Regions from separate parts of the Homo sapiens genome. Here all the other regions are reported to be linked to region 2. Evidence: microRNA targets listed by miRTarBase, many of them from high-throughput screens and not tested one by one. Region 2 holds a microRNA gene; each other region holds the end of a gene's coding sequence. Distances are from middle to middle.

Region 1 (5,175 bases), not on the chromosome of region 2:
AACTGAATTCCTTTTTTCTTAGATCTAGGCCAAATTAACAAGAAGACACTTCTTCCTATGGCCAAGAATGTGCATACAAGGGAATTTTCTAGAATAAGGCTTGCTCTGTTGAGTTTACTTTGGTGTGATGTTTAAATAGCACAGCTTCAAAGGTCCAAACAAAAGATGACGCCTTGTCTTAATAATTAAGAGTCTTTGCTCTCTTGGTGAATCAAGAAGCCTGGTTGTTCCTCTTTCAGAAACAGCTTAATATAACAAAAATAATGCAAGCAACAGGATCAAAGGGGAAGATGCTGGGGACTCTCTTTCTGAGGTTTTGGGCACCATCTTTGTCAACTTATCTTCCCAAGTCTATGTTCTACGCTTTAAGAGATAGGTGCACCCTGGATACTGGGCGCCCATTGAACAGCTTGAAGTTATAGGGAAAAGATGGCAAGGAAAAAGGTCACTTTGTGCCTGCTGGCAATTTTCTGACCCCACCTTCCACCAACTGGTCCCCAGCATGTCCCCTAAGATAGAGGCAGTTCTGAATGCCCTGACCCTGGATGCATTTCTCATTATACACCACAGTGTGATGGAGCTGTGTGTGTACACACAGGCACAACCGGGAAGCTGGTTTATGCAGTGAGTGGGGCAGAGTGGAAAAGAGCCTCCCTGGAATTCAACTGTTCAGTAAAGTTGATTCACTAACTTCAGAGGAGCTGTTGGAATGATCCCATATCCCCCAGAATCTGTGAGCAGCAGTCAAGTCAGTACTGCTTCAGCCTACTTTCCTCTCCCCAGTATTTCACAGGAGTTTCACATATGGAGGATCTGGATGAGGTTTAAGTCTCATGAAATTCTATAAAATAACTGCCTGTATTAGTCCACTTTCACACTGCTATAAAGAGCTTCCCTGAGACTGGGCAATTAATAAAGGAAAGAGCTTTGACTCACAGTTCTGTATGGTTAGGGAGGCCTCAGGAATCTTACAATCATGGTGGAAGGGGAAGCAGGCACCTTTTTCACAAGGCAGCAGTGGAGAGGAGTGAAGGAGGAACTTCCAAACATTTATAAAACCATTAGATCTCGTGAGGACTCACTTGCTATCATGAGAACAGCATGGGGGAAACCACCCCCATGATCCAATCACCTGCCTCCCTCTACATGTGGGGATTACAGGTCCCTCCCTCAACCTGTGAGGATTACAATTCAAGATGAGATTTGAGTGGGACACAGAGTCAAACCTTATCACTGCTTTAGGAGTTCATAGGTAAGATTAATACCCCTGTTGCCAGAAGGGCAACATAGGGAACATGACCATAGTTCCTAAAATGAGATCTATAGTTGAGGCTGGTGTTTTGGTTAGCTCAGACATCTCTCCTTTCCTATTCAGGTCATAAGTTATCACTGAGGTGTTTGCACCATCTTTGCATATATTTAGGCTGTCAGCCCATCTAAGAATGCCTAGGGATTTTGTTGTAATAACATGTTAGATCACTGTGGGATCATCTTGAGTCTTGAATTCAGTGTGCACACATGCCTGTTTCTTTCAGTGGGTGTGTGACCCTGTGCCCACACACTATTCATCTTGGTTCTCTTTTCTGTTAGGTATTACTCCTATTTACCTTTGATTTTGTGTTTTTGAAAACTTGTATTAATGCAAGCCAAGTTTTCTGGCACGACCACCAGCGCAGAAATATAATTGCTTTATCACTGGAGGTGATATCCCTTCTGGCAAAGGCTGTACAACTAAGTGGAAATGCTGTAGAGAGAATTCAGACATCCACTGAGCAGCTGAAACTTTAAAGTCTACTCAAACCTAGACAACTAATGATCCTATATCTTGGTATCACATAGTTTACTGTAAGCTTTGTTGAGGCTATATAGAATGTGTATTTTAGATAATTCAAATATCTAAGAGTAGTGGTTCTGGGGCATTTTTAAAAATACAAATGCCTAGGTCCGTACATTTTATTTCAATTAGTATGGAGTAGGTCCCCAAATAAAAACATCCCAGAAATTCTGATGTGCAGCTAGTGTTGATAACTACTGATCTAGTTATTTCATTTTTGATTCCTCTCATGATAAAGAAAGCTAAAATGTAAAGCCAGTTTCTTAAAGTCACACAGGGTGGTGAATATGCATGATGCTTCTGAAGTGAATAAGTGCATACCATATCACGTTTCTCCACAAAGACAACATCAGCAATTTGGACAAGCCAATTATTTGTGATGTGGGATTTCAGGGACCTTGAAGTTCTGATCCCTTCCTCCTAAATGCCAGTGAACTTCCCAGTCATTGTAATAACCTGCAACACTCCACACACTTCCAAATGCTCTGTAGGTGGCTGAGAACCTTTTAACAGGTATAACTGGCTCCAAAGATGATAAATATTTCAGCTACATTTCTGCCCTCAAACATTTACTTTCAGTTCCTGAAATGGTGGCCTGGAAACTTATCACGGATCTAACAGACAAACTTTAGGTTTTAAAGTGTTTGTTATCTCTGAGATGAAAAAATTTTAAAAAGCAAACACCTGAATTATATATAATTGATTAAACATGGCATTTATCTCATTTCATTCATTTTTGTAATGAAGCTTTACCTAGCTCTCAGAATCTCTAAAATGAAAAGCCAGAAGTGCATATTGACAGATTCCAACTGTTGGGTAACCACTCCTCACTCCAAGTCTCTCCTCCCCGTCAAAAAACAAACAGAACCAAAAACCAAAACCAAACAAATCCTATAGAGAGTAAGAGCAGTTATTCTAAACTAAAGTTTTAGACTATTGTGAAGGTTTGTTTGTTTGTTTAATTAATACTCAAACGGATGTGTGGGAGGATGAGACTATAAATAAATTATAGTCCCTTGAAAGTTAAATTCCTGGGATTCCAAGGACCATTACCAATAGCAACTTTTATAACAAAGTTTTTCCACATATCCTTTTTGCAGACATGCAAGATACTTCACTTTCCACAGATTTTCATATCCGTCAACCAACCTGTGAATATTTACAAGTATGTGACTTCAACAAGTGCGGAGATTGCTGACTCTTGGGTGGCACTGGATAAACTATCAATGAGATGGACAGAATGGGTCCTTTGGGTAGATGGAGTCTATCCAGGCCACTTTAGGTTTGAGGAGAAAGGGGGATGCTCAGGTTTATTGAAGTTAGTTTATATCTCGAGAGCACCTCCTGCCTGAACTATGCTACCAGTCTTGGATTGTGATCTAATGAAATTCTAGAAAATGACCATACTTTAATGAAATTCTAGAGAATGACTGTATTTTTTCCCTATTCAAAACAATTCACATATCATATTTATAGAGTATTTCCTACTCTGGAGGCAATCTATTATAGAGGATAGGACTCTAAGCAATAAGTTCGATTAGCAATACACGACTTCAAGTATAATAAGTAAAAGCAGGAGTGGCAGGTTTGGTGGGAATCTGGTCAAATAGAGTAGGATAGGGATAATTATTTCCTAAATGAACTAAGACCTAATCCAATCTCATGCTTCCAAGCATATCTCTGTAGACAAAACACATTGGCATTACGACATATTACTTAGTTTTCATGAGGGTCACATTTCATTTATTTCCCATATTTTTTTTCAGATATTTATTGGATGTCAAAATTATCTTGTTAGTTTGATGCAACCTGGCAAAGATACTTTACAAATGTATATACTTTTTGGAAATGTGACCAAATTGTGAATGTCCGTCCAGCTTTTGAATAATAATAGTGAACTACTGAGAAATAATTATGAGACATGTAGTCCATTTTTATATTCAGTATGCCAATTATTTATCAAGAGGAGACAAACAGGATGAAAAAAAGAAGTAAAAATTAAAACAATTCATACAGAAAAATGTCACACTTTCTTACCTGAAATATTTTAGTGTTTGGGCTTCTTATTGAATTTGGTCTTGGTAAGATGAGTTGTATCTTTTTAAAGAAATAAGCAGTCTTCAGTGTTTTTATAGCATTGGTTACTACAGAAATTATACTTCTTTTACTTCTTGTCTTGAAGGGTGAACAAAATAAACAAACTGAAAATACTACAATGAATGGTAAATGATGAAAGATTTACAGTACAAAAAACAGTGTAAAAAGGAAGACAAGTTTAAATATTGTTGTGTAAGAAAGTGATGAAAATAATACAAGAATGAGAATAAGTAAAATGATAGGCTGGAACATCTGGGAAGGTAAATGCAAAGACAAAGAGAAGAGTTAATTAATAATAATCTTTAAAACTTAAATTCACATCAACAAATTTAAGTAGTCATTCAACTTAAAAAAGAACCTCCACCCTCCCTTAAGCCTATATCTATAAAATCTGAAAGCCTAATATACATAGCACTTTCTCTCACTCTAATTTCTATTATTTTCCCTAAGAGTATAACCGAATACATATCAAAATTCAACAAGTTTTATCATAAAACGATATTTTTCATAGCAAAGCAGAGCAACATGCAAGATAAATAAGCGATAGGGCTGCAATGTTTCTAGCTGTACCAACAGGCAGTTAATCTAAAACCATGCTTCTGTACGTAAACTGGCTTTTAAATGTCTTCCGTGTCTTAAAAGCCATGCATGCTGTTGTACTTCCGTGGGTTCTCCAATGGATACAGGACACCAGGCTTGCCAGAGGAAACAGCATTGCCTGTTTTGTTTCATAAATTATCTTTCATGTGGTTAACTCTGACAAAATGCATTGGTCTTTAAATGGCCACCATACCTGGCCAAAGCAGCTCAGTCCAATTCATCCGGTGTGCCTCTACAAATCAGGATGGAGGAAAAATGCTGGTTTTCCCTGTTCTGGAATAGTTATTACTATTTCTCTGAATTAGTGTTGCCTTCAAGCTACCGTATAGACTCCTTCCCCAGTCCTGAGATTCTCCACTATACAACTGAGAGTGATTTTCTCTGGAAATAATGATCATGTTATTTCAACTTATGGTAAAAAAAAAAAAGTGGCTTTCATTTGTTCCTTTCCAGGGGGTTGTAGACACAAAACCATGTCTCTTTACCACTGGTTTCTACATTTACCAGTAGTTATCCATCAGTTCTGTTTTATTTAATTAAATTAATTTTTTTTATTGAGACAGAGTCTCACTCTGTCGCCTAGGCTGGAGGGCAGTGGTGTAATCTTGGCTCACTGCAACCTCCCTCTCCCCGGGTTCAAGTGA
Region 2 (5,747 bases):
GAAGATATTTTCTTTTATATTGAAAAAATGCAATTTTTTAAAAATCAGTCTGGACTCTTGGATTCTCATTATATTGGTTATAACCCATGACTATAATACATTTTGTGCTCAGATTTTTCTAGATTTTACATTGGGATGCCCTTCAAGTTGGGTTCTATGTATTTTTGCCATTTTACTGTTGTTTTTTGAGCACTGCCTTACCTTTTGACCCCACAAGATATTCTAGGCTCAGTGTACACTTTGCCTGGTCCAGCCCTGGAATCAGCCATTGCTGCTGTGCTATCCTTGACAGAACTATAACCTGAATTTAACAAGGAGGAAATATCAGGCAAACACAAATGGAGTGACATTCTAGTTAACAACTGATCAGCACTCTTTAAAAATGAAAGACAAAGAATGACTGAGGAATGAGTTCAGATTAAAAGAGACGAAGGGACACGCTCCAACTGTAACTGCAACGCATGACTGCGGGCTGCGTTCTGCATTGGAAAAAAGTGTTACTGATGAAATTTGAATATCGTCTCTAGATTGAGCAACTAAGCAATAATATTGTATTAAATTGCTAGATTGGGCAATAGTATTGTACTAAAGTTAATTTCCTGACACAGTTAAATAATTGTACTGTGTATATAAGATGTCAAAATTGAGAAGTTGCAAGGCTAAATGGAATTTCTCAGTTTTTTAAACTCTTACTTTGTACATCTGAAATTATTTTAAAATAAAAACTAAAAAAAAAAAACCTAAATACAAACCATGAGATAGATTTATATGTACTAATATGGGATGGTGTCCACAATCAATTGGAAAAGATAAGTTGTAGTACCATTTGTATAGAATTGGCCCATTTTTGTAGGAGCAAGACAGAACAATATAGTGCACATACATATTTATCTACACATGGGAGAAATTCTGTGAAGGGTATGTACTTCCTGTTAACAGACATTTCTGGGAAATGTGTTTGGAAGGTATGAGACACCTTTTACTTTTTGATGTCTCCTGATAATGGGAAAACAGTAAGAATGTGGGTTGTATGCATGAGTGTGATTCTACACGTGTAGGTTTAGGTTTGATGTACTCCCATCCAGCTTATTCTCTTTTGCATTTTCCAGCACAGGCAGTGCTGTGCAATGTCTTGCCCAGTGGACACCCACCTAATTTTCACTCCACAAACCACTGTCCTACATCTGATCCTTAACAAAGTATGTTAGTTGTAGACACAAAGGTGGCCTACATTTCATACTTGTTGACAGTAATGCTAGTTGACTCATCTTACCTTTGTCTGAGGAGGCTGGAAATTGTTTGTCCTCAGAAACTTTAGGGAGAAATTTATTACTAAGATTGTATCATTTTGGTCTCCCCAGAGAAATGAAAAATTAGAAATTGGCCATGTGACAATCGTTGCATTTACCTCTTTAAGGAGCAGTGATTCTTTAAGTGGTGCTTGATTTATCTAAACCCGATTAATTAGTGAACGGTCATCTGTTTCTCCCAGGAATTTTTAATGATCATTAGGCTTTTGTAGTTACTGTGAAATTTTGTTTACGTGGATTTATTTTTGTGCAGGATTGTATACAGGGCAGATGCTCCTTAATTTAAGAAGGGAGATGTGAGAACAAAAGTGTCTTCTCTTGAGTGAGGGCCTGTTATGTGCCCTGACTTGTTACAAATATCGACTAATGTAACCTTCTCTACCATGTACCTTTCTTCCAATTTATCAATGAGGAAACTGATGCAAAAATGTATGTTCCCACAGGCTCTGGTGTGTTCACTGAGTTAGCTCCAGAAAGAACTGTCCCCTTCTCATGCCTGTTCCCTACTTCTTTTGCAGCTAATTCTCCGAAATGGTTTCTGTCTTCAGCTTTCTGGGCTGCCCCATCACCTGTGTTGCTTCTAAATGTTAGTTTCATTGCTGCCTTCTGGGTTCCTCTGCTTCTCTCTGACATGATGTCTCTACGGATGCATCTCTCAGTAATGATTATAATGGTGGTGATGATAATAAAAAGAGAATACACAAGTGTTTTTATCAATCCCTGACCATGCTGGGCACAATGCTAAGCATGTGCAGGCATGATGTCTTTATTCTGCCCACTCAGCTGATGAGATTGAAGGGGCTCCCTGCAGGTTGGGGCCTGAAAAACACAGCCAGGTCCATCTAGGAACTAGAAGCTATGGTCAGGCTTACATGCTTTTTTCATATCAGTGTTCATGTAGATGTTTAAGCTCTTGCAGTAGGTTTTTGCAAGCTAGTGAACGCTGCCAAATTATGCTCGCCACACAATTGCAGCCACCTATTCCCAGGCAGTATAAATATATGGCTGAACTAACATTAATACCTATCACTGTTTTATCAAGTGACATAATCAAGATAATTATGAAGTATCCAAATATTAATTTTCATAGATTAAAAGCAGATAAAGTATTAGAAATCTGCTTATATCATTAGCAGAAACATTTTTGGGGGCCACAGGGTAAGGAAAAGAGGGGAAAATATTGTCCTTCAACAAAAGTAATCATATTCTAGTAAGTATAATAAAAGAAATGACAAGCTTTTCAGAATTTCCACGACTAAAAATTGTTTTAGCTGCAGCTAAAAAAGCATCACATAACAAAATATCTCTTGTTTAAAATATTTGCTACAAAAAAGTCCTATTCTATATGTCCTGCATAAGAACAAGTATCTTTATATAAGAAATGTGTTTAATAGCCCTCTTTCATTCTTTTTCTGAAGCCCTCCCTGTTAAATTGCACCCAAAGGGGAAACATTAATTGAACTGTAAAGCTTTTTTTTTTTCTGTCTAAAGACATTAAAGACATATAGGTGGTATTAAATGAACCTTTAACTAGAGCTCTGTGAGTTTTCAAAATAGATTTTATTTTTCTTTACCATAGGCCAACAGAGATTTTGAGAAACACATTGAAGGATCTGTTAACACTTGATATACCCAATAAAAGCAGTGGTTGTGCCAGTGCTGATCTGTCTTGATGTGAATGTGAACAATGGGAACCTGAGCTGAGCAGGTAAATAATCATGTAGTACAGTCACCGTCTTCAGTGTTTGAGATGACTAGCAGGGTAAACCACGCTGTGTCTAAGATGCAGTGTTAATTCTGTTTGAAGTAAAAATATGCAAGTGTGGTACTGGATATTTTGGCACGCAATCTTGCGAAATTTCTCATTGATGAGATTCTGACATAGGAACTACATTTGAGTAAGAATCATAGCTCAATACAGCATGATTTCAGGAAAGTCGACTAAGATAAAAGTGTTTCTGAGGCTGAACAGCAAGAATCTTTTGCTAAGAGTTAGAATAGATTGACAAGAACCTAAAATCAGAAGTTGCAATTCTGCTGAGATACTGCTTTTCAGTTCTCCGGTGGAAGCTTCATTGGACATATTGTACATCAAGCCTCTATGTGACTGATTCCTGCCTCTTTATGTCTTGTTTTAGATTCTCCATGGCAGTAGCTTTAGGCAACCCAGTTTTACTGAATGCAGCAATGGTTTCAGTGACCATTAGAGTCCAATTTTAGGATGATACTTCTCCAAATTGTTAAAACTCCCTGGTGCTTTTCTCTTATAAACTGCAAAATGTCTTCATATTTCATCCCGCTTTTCAGTTAATGCTAGGGTGACAGAAACTGGACCTCTCCCAAGACATGTGACAGAGTAATACAGCAGCCAACTTCTTCGCCAAATTAAAGTTTTACAAGATTTAACCTGTCATCAAGACCTGGGATTTTGGTGGTGAGTCATCTTCAAAAGCCAAGTTCGGTCCCTGGTTTGCCTTCTTTTCCGCACAAGAACAAGGGTTTTGATGGCTCTGGTCTCCAGGACCATCTGTGGCTTTCTATTAGCAATAATCGCACCTCGGTGAAACCTCATTGGCTACGATACTGCCACTGCGCAAAGCTCATGGCTTTCTTTAATAGCAAATGGCCTCTGACTTTTAAGAAGCCATGTGGCTACCCCTCAGCAGACTTAGGAGAGGTCTTGGCTATTATTTGTTGTTTTATAAGGTGTCATCATTGAGCATCTACTCTGGATGAGGCTCTGTGCTGGGCTTGAGGGGTACAGGGAAGTTTCACATGTCCCGTCTTGTTGAATCACACACACTTGATCTCACTACAACAGCAGAAAACAAGTTAAAGTTCCCCAGGGGTTGACACATTTGCCTGCCGTGTTTATTGCTGCTGTGATTTCTGCAGCATGGTCCAAAGAAGGCAATCAGTCAACAGTGAATGGGTTGAGATTTTGTGATTTTGGTTTAGGAGTCTTAATCTCTAGAATAAAATCTAATGAAAGGGTGGGGCTATGTTTTTCTCTTGCCTTGACTTCTTTGACTCTATTTGTAAATTCCAAATTTACCCAGGCCTCTGGCTCATTCTGTCTTAAGGTGCGGGGACCTCTAAAATGTAGATGGCAACAATCTTTAGACTATATGTGTCTTGATGGTAGGGCAATCAAATTGATTTCCTCAGCATATACGAGTCATGTTTTGTAAGCATGGTGGGTACTTAGTCAATGTCTCAATCAGATTTGCTTCTGTTTAGCAAGATAATCTTTTGTGGGGGAGTGTTATGGACTGAACTGTTTTCCTTCTTCCAAACGTATATGATGAAACCTACCCCCATGTACTCAGTATTAAGAAGTGGACCTTTGGGAGATAATTCAGGTTAAATGAGATTATGAGGGTGGGGCTCTCGTGATGAAATTAGTGCCCTCAAAATAAGAGACCTCAGAGAGCTTACTGTCTCTCTTCTCTCTCTGCTACGTGAGGACACAATGAGAAGGGAGCCATCCACAATGCAAGGAGAGGGCCCTCATCAGAACAGACCATACTAGCACCTTGATCTTGCACTTGTAGTCTTCAGAACTGTAAGAAAATGAATTTTCTATTATTTAAGCCACCCAGTCTGGTGCAGTCTATTATTGCCTTCCAAATGGAGAAATACAAGGAAACTAGGGCCGTCTTAGCTTCACAGAGAGAAGATGTGGAGAGGAGTTAGGAGGTAGAGACTGGACCTTGATGGTGGTGATATTCAATTAGTGAAAGGCTGAGAAGAGGTCAAATATACTTCTTGTGGCCCCAAAGATCAGAACCAAAATGGAAAGGTAGAAACAGTAGGCAAACAGAAAGCAACTTAATAAAAGGAAAAGGAACCTGAGAGAATGCTCTGTCTCTGACAGTGGTTGGGATCTCATCACTGGAGATATCCACACAGGGACTGTATTACTACTGAGAGGGGGTGGGGCTGAAAGGATCCAAGCATTGCACTGTGATGCGACCCCATAAGGTCACTTAGTCTTTGGGACTTGTGAGCTCACAGTGAATCATTACAAACAGAAACGATTCCCTCTTATTTGTGGAGCACATTAAAATTTCCAAAGCATTTTTGTGAGTACATTAGCTCCCATGATTTATATCAAAACATTAGAGTTGACATTCAATACACATTTGCTGAATGAGGGGGATGCATGAAGGAGCTATTGTGGTACCTTGGTTGGCAGAAGAGGAATACATGGGCAGAGTCATTTCTAGACTTGCTAGGAAAGGCCAAGCCAGGCTTGGACCTGGGTCTCTACTGTACTCTTTACTCTACTCAGTCTTTTCCAAGGTGGAAATAATATTTTCTCTGAGGCTGATGTTTTTCTGTTTGTTTTGCATTTTGGTAAATTCATCAACATCAATATCCCCTTTAATGCTCACAAATGCCCTTAGAACCAGCTTTTATTGTTCTCATTTTGCA
Region 3 (5,175 bases), 110 Mb from region 2:
AAAAATGAAACCCAGAAAAAGTCATTTTATATCAACCCAAAACTCACAACCAATTTTCTAAAATAGAACTAAAACAGCAAAATGCCTACATGTCTGCAGTGATCTTAGGAGGGTACTTAAAACGTTGCCTCCTGATCCCCACACAGTCAGTGTGGCTGTTAATAAACAGTTGCTTTGCATACAGTTCTTCGGACTCTCCTGGTGACAGTGACACGTGTAAAGCATGTCCGTGTCCTCTTTGTTAATACAGAGTGTACTTTGCAAAATATCTGATCTTGACTCTGATAACTCACCACTTGTATTTAGGGTATAATTTGAGACTTTATTCCACATATCATTTTGTTTAAAGTACAGTATTGACTTCTAAGAACATCAATTAAAATTTTTCCATATAAACATTGAAAAACTTGTTGAGAGCAAAATACAGTCTATAAAGTTTGGGTCTTCACAATAGAGAGGCACATTCTACCAGGAAAATATTGATCAAGGACACCTTCTGTGGGGTATCTTACATTTGCATTTCATTCTTCTAAAGCAGCGGTCCCCAACCTTTTTGGCACCAGGGACGGGTTTTGTGGAAGACAGTTTTTCCATGGACAGGGTGGGGGATGGTTTGGGGATGAAACTATTCCACCTCAGATCATCAGGCATTAGTTAGATTCTCATAAGGAGCATGGAACCTAGATCCCTCACGTGTGCAGTCCCTTCTGTGAGAATCTAATGCTGCCCTGCTCTGACAGGAGGCAGAGCTCAGGTGGTAATGTTCACAATGGGGAGTGGCTGTAAATACACTGTAAATACTAGAGACTGCTTGCTCACTTCCTGTTGTGTGGCCTGGTTCCTAACAATAGTGGTCTGTGGCCCAGGGGTTGGTGACCCCCGTTCTAAAGTACTACAGAAAGGAAAGAGACAAACTCTATTAAGTTCTACATTTTCCACCTCAATAACTTAAAAGTCATTTTCTGACATACCTGAAACATTGATTTTTTTTTTTCCTGCCCCAACAGGCTTCCTGATTTACTTTTCTTATGGCATTAGACACAGCCTGGAGGGTCATCTGAGAGATGAAAACAATGAAGAAGATGCTTATCCAGACAACGTTCATGCAGCAGCAGAAGAAAAATCTGCCATTCAAGCAAATGACCATCACCCAAGAAATCTCAGTTCACCTTTCATATTCCATGAAAAGACAAGTGAATTCTAACACTTGCAGGAGCAGAGCTGGTCATCGTCTTAGCATACATATCCTACACTGAGTAAACCGTAACGGGATGTCATCAGCATGCTGGGTTGTCATGGGTTTGCTGCATACATAGTTCACCCTAATTTATACTTACTCATCTGGACAGCATCTCCTCAGATGGTGAATTATGTGCACGGGGAAACCTCCTGAGTGGAAGTTTCATTCATCAGTGATGAATAGCCCCCAAACAGTGGGAGTGTGTATGTATGTGTGTATGTATGTATCTATGTATATGCTTGGGAACATGAGTGTTACAAGTTAGCTGGTGTTTTACTATTATTGTGTTACATTTTTCCAGTGTCGTCATTAATCGGTGGCATATACTGCACATACTGAAATAGAGGGAAATCACTGAATGTAAAGAGGTTTCATCTATGCCCCCTGCAGTTGGGGAAATACTAGTAGCTTTACCTTGTTTGACTTCATTAATGTCAGTTTAGGGGATGCCAAAAATGCAGTTACTCATCATGGTGTCTGTCACTGGTTAGGGGTAAGATGAGGGGATAAGGAAAGAGACTTTTCAATAAGTTGTGAATGCCAACAGTGGGTTTAATGCAAATTTTTTTTCCTGTGAGGTATGACAGTTTGCTCAAACTTCAGCCAACAGGGGTGTCTGCTTCTGCTGCACTACACAGGCCAGGAGTGGCATTCCATGCCACTAGTTGGCATCCTTTTGAACTTTTGTCTCCTTTGCAAACAGTGGTCCTAAAATACGAGGTCTTCACTTGCTGTGAATGACGTATCCCCAGTCAGGGACTTAAGAGAGGCACTGTGATATACTTGGGACCCTTTAAATTAAAAAGTGAAGATAGTCACCAGGGCCAGAAAGCTCATGGAGTGGCCGTAATGAGAATATGTTTGAAGATCAAAGAGTTAGACCAATGCTTGAATAAGTAGACCCCAAGCATCCTTTTCTAAAAAGTGACTTAAAATAAGCCAACAGACTCTCCCAGACCACACAACTAGTGGAATGATTCCTCCTTTTTCCATTACTTACTTAATCACAGTTTAGTTTTTTTCTTAACCTCGTCAGGCCCAGAGTTCACTTCTTTGTTTCTCTGTTTCTTTTGTCTTGTCTTAGAGATGAGGGGGCTACAGCAGCATCATGCAAAGAGGGAAAGATGAAGGGATAGAAGAAGAGAAAATCCCCCTGTTCTGATAGGAACGGCCTGTTCCATTGTTAAATGGCAAATGGCCCAATTTAAGGGCTTTGGATCTAATTTGCCTCTGATGTTTCCTTTGGAAACATTTAGGAATATTTTTCTCCCCCTACCCCATAAATTGTGTAGCACTTTTTATTCCATTTGCTTTCAAATGACTACACTAAGCCTAATAATACAAGCTCCAGTGTTATACAATAACCCATCAGTGATTGGGGAATCAAACATTTTGGTTTAAAAAACATGATTATTTAAAACTGGAAACTAAAAAGAATCAAATTGAATTAAAGCTATATAAACACAGTTAACCCTTGTAAATGAGTAAACAAATTTTTACATGTAAGATTCTCTAATTGTCATATTTTACTTTTTAGGATTCCCTAATAGTGGACTGTTTATTTGCAGTGTATTTGCTTCTCATGAACTATTTCTCGTACAAATCATTAAATAGTTCATTGGATGAGGCTGGGTGACATTTCCCAGGACAGCATGGTGAACATTACCAGGCATGCTAGCTGGCCCGTGTAATCCCAAGACAAGGAAAACATTCGTTTTCCTCATGGGTCTTCCAAGAAATGAGCTATTTTATTGATGCCATTAAAAAGCAAGTTGCGATGGTTTTGTATAGCCAGGAGTTTATTGTGATTAAACATCAAAGAAACAGGTAGAAAGCCTGGGTTTCTGGCTGCTAGCGTTATAGCATCCATGACACAGAACTCATTACGGACATTCCACAACTTCCAGGGTGCACATGGTAAAATCTGAAGCCCAGAATTTTCTCTCAAGCTGCGTGGTTTACTGGAGAGAAGGAGTTGGATAAGCACAGGCTCGGGTATTTTGGTAGGGACTGTAGGCATGCTCATAAATCCTTGCTGTTGTCACAGTACGCTGAAAACCCGTTTGATTCTATACCCAATCAAGAATAGACCCTTCACACAGGAAATGTGAACAATTGTTATATATGAACACTCAAATCTTTTACTGTAACGAAACCAAGAAACTTGTTTAGAATGTGATAGGCAGCTAAAACTGTTATGCCCACTGTGCTCAATTTGAAGCAGAATTTAGTGAAAAATTATTTTTCCACATTGAAACACTTTGCAGACACAAATATCTATGAAAAGATGCTTTGTCAGCCACTGTGCCTTTTTTTCTGTGAAGACTCAACGGATGTGTGTGTTTGTATGTTTGTTAACAGTTACATATGTTTGTATGAGTGTATATATATATCTGTGTGTGTGTATCTCTAACGTCAGTGTATAAGTAAGTTGGGTTTATGGTGGGCTTTGACTATGTCATTAGGTGGGTACAAAACCCAACTGATGTGGAGAAAAATTGATGTTTGATGTTGATAGATATGCTTATACCTAATTTTTAGTTTTTAAACTATTTTAAAATATACTATGATTTTATATGTATATTTCCTATAGACTCTTTAAGACGTATTTATAATGTTTCTAATATGAAATCACTAAACTCTAGTACATTATAGCAGGTGCTTTGTAATCTGGAATGGAGAAGAGGTAGGGGCATTTGGGGATTCCTGTTTACTTGCTGCTGCCACACCTTTTCCGACTGATCTGTCCTGGTAGGTGTTTATTAGCAAAAGTCAGTATCACCAGCTCTTTGGCACCTTTCTGTTTCTGCTTGTGAATTCATAATGTTTTCAACTAAATTTTTTTTTTCTTTCTCAGAATTACCTAAATGTTTTGTAGAGTTTTGACTAGTAATCAATCAAAATTATATAAAGTCTTCTCCAGTAATTAAGAAATACATATGCAAATTCTTTTGTGATTGAGTAAAAGCAGCTTAAATTACTTTTCTTTTCTACATTAAGAAATATATTCTCAACATTTTCAGTGAGAATTTCTTGTAATGGCACCTCAAATTTTATACTCTTAAAAAAAAACAATAATTTGTGAATTACCACCAAAAGGCAATGGCAGTCCTACATTTAAGAATAGAGCTATGCAAACTCTGTTAAAAACTATGAGGAAAACTTATATTAGAACTTTTGATATATACTAAAATACTGATTATCTTAATCACATTTTCCCCAGAGATAAACATTGAGAGAACGAAAGCCAAAGTGTCATTTAAGAGAGATATATATGAAAAAGTAACATTAATATATAGAACTTTACCATCACCAGCCGTAGTTGATAGAAAATATTAGTTTCAGAATTACCCTCCTTTAAAAAATAAGAGACTATTTGTTTTCTTTTAATTTCTATGAATAAAAGAAATTTTTAAAAACTTTAAAATTTTAAATATTAGTCAAAATACTTTTTAAGTCCTGAGTGCTTACAGGTAGTTGTTAAAAAAATTTTAAGGCCAGGCATGGTGGCTCGCTCACACCTATAATCCTAGGATCTTGGGAGGTCGAGGCAAGCTGATCGCTTGAGCCCAGGAGTTTAAGACCGGCCTGAGTAGCATAGCAAGACCCTGTCTCTACAAAAAAAACAAAAATTAGCTGGGCATGGTGGCATGCACATGTAGTCAGAGCTACTGGGGGTGCTGAGGTGGGAGGATCGCTTGAGCCCAGGAGAGTGAGGCTGCAGTGAGCTGAGATTACGCCACTGCACTCTAGCCTGGGCAACGGTGAGACCCTGCCTCAAAAAAAATAAAAATAAAAATAAAACACTTTAATTAGAATCTATTTTTACCTATTTTCTAAATTTATTTAAATGCTTAGCAGGAAGCATAAGGAAAAGCCATCGGCCTCCAATACCCATGATGACAGAGGGAGCACTTGAGCCTTGCCTTCCCTCC

The links. Region 2 holds the annotated microRNA hsa-miR-1206 (UGUUCAUGUAGAUGUUUAAGC, at 2,201-2,221, shown strand). A microRNA usually pairs through its seed, bases 2 to 8, with sites in the 3' UTR of a target mRNA and lowers its output. Matches are read on the target gene's strand: a 7mer-m8 pairs with bases 2 to 8, a 7mer-A1 pairs with bases 2 to 7 and ends in A, and an 8mer does both.
Region 1: the mRNA of MTCL3 is a reported target of hsa-miR-1206. The part of its 3' UTR that is shown has no 7-base or 8-base seed match.
Region 3: miRTarBase lists SLC7A2 as a target of hsa-miR-1206. Seed matches in the 3' UTR shown: 7mer-m8 at 2,822-2,828 and 7mer-A1 at 3,365-3,371.

Annotation. Positions count from the first base shown.
Region 1 is chr6:127,469,209-127,474,383 of GRCh38, forward strand. MTCL3 (MTCL family member 3) reads right to left here. Exons shown (of 7, transcript NM_001400265.1): 7 at 3,766-4,183. The coding sequence ends at 4,073. SOGA3-KIAA0408 (SOGA3-KIAA0408 readthrough) reads right to left here. Exons shown (of 13, transcript NR_174482.1): 7 at 3,872-4,183. Among named protein-coding and RNA genes, the nearest start is that of KIAA0408, 12 kb to the left of the region's middle.
Region 2 is chr8:128,006,701-128,012,447 of GRCh38, forward strand. It overlaps MIR1206 (microRNA 1206), which reads left to right and starts at 2,198; the gene lies at 2,198-2,256. It overlaps PVT1 (Pvt1 oncogene), which reads left to right. Exons shown (of 9, transcript NR_190187.1): 5 at 2,890-3,018; 6 at 3,618-3,744. It also overlaps the pseudogene RNU4-25P.
Region 3 is chr8:17,563,943-17,569,117 of GRCh38, forward strand. It overlaps SLC7A2 (solute carrier family 7 member 2), which reads left to right. Exons shown (of 13, transcript NM_001370338.1): 13 at 1,008-5,175. The coding sequence ends at 1,204. Among named protein-coding and RNA genes, the nearest start is that of PDGFRL, 11 kb to the right of the region's middle.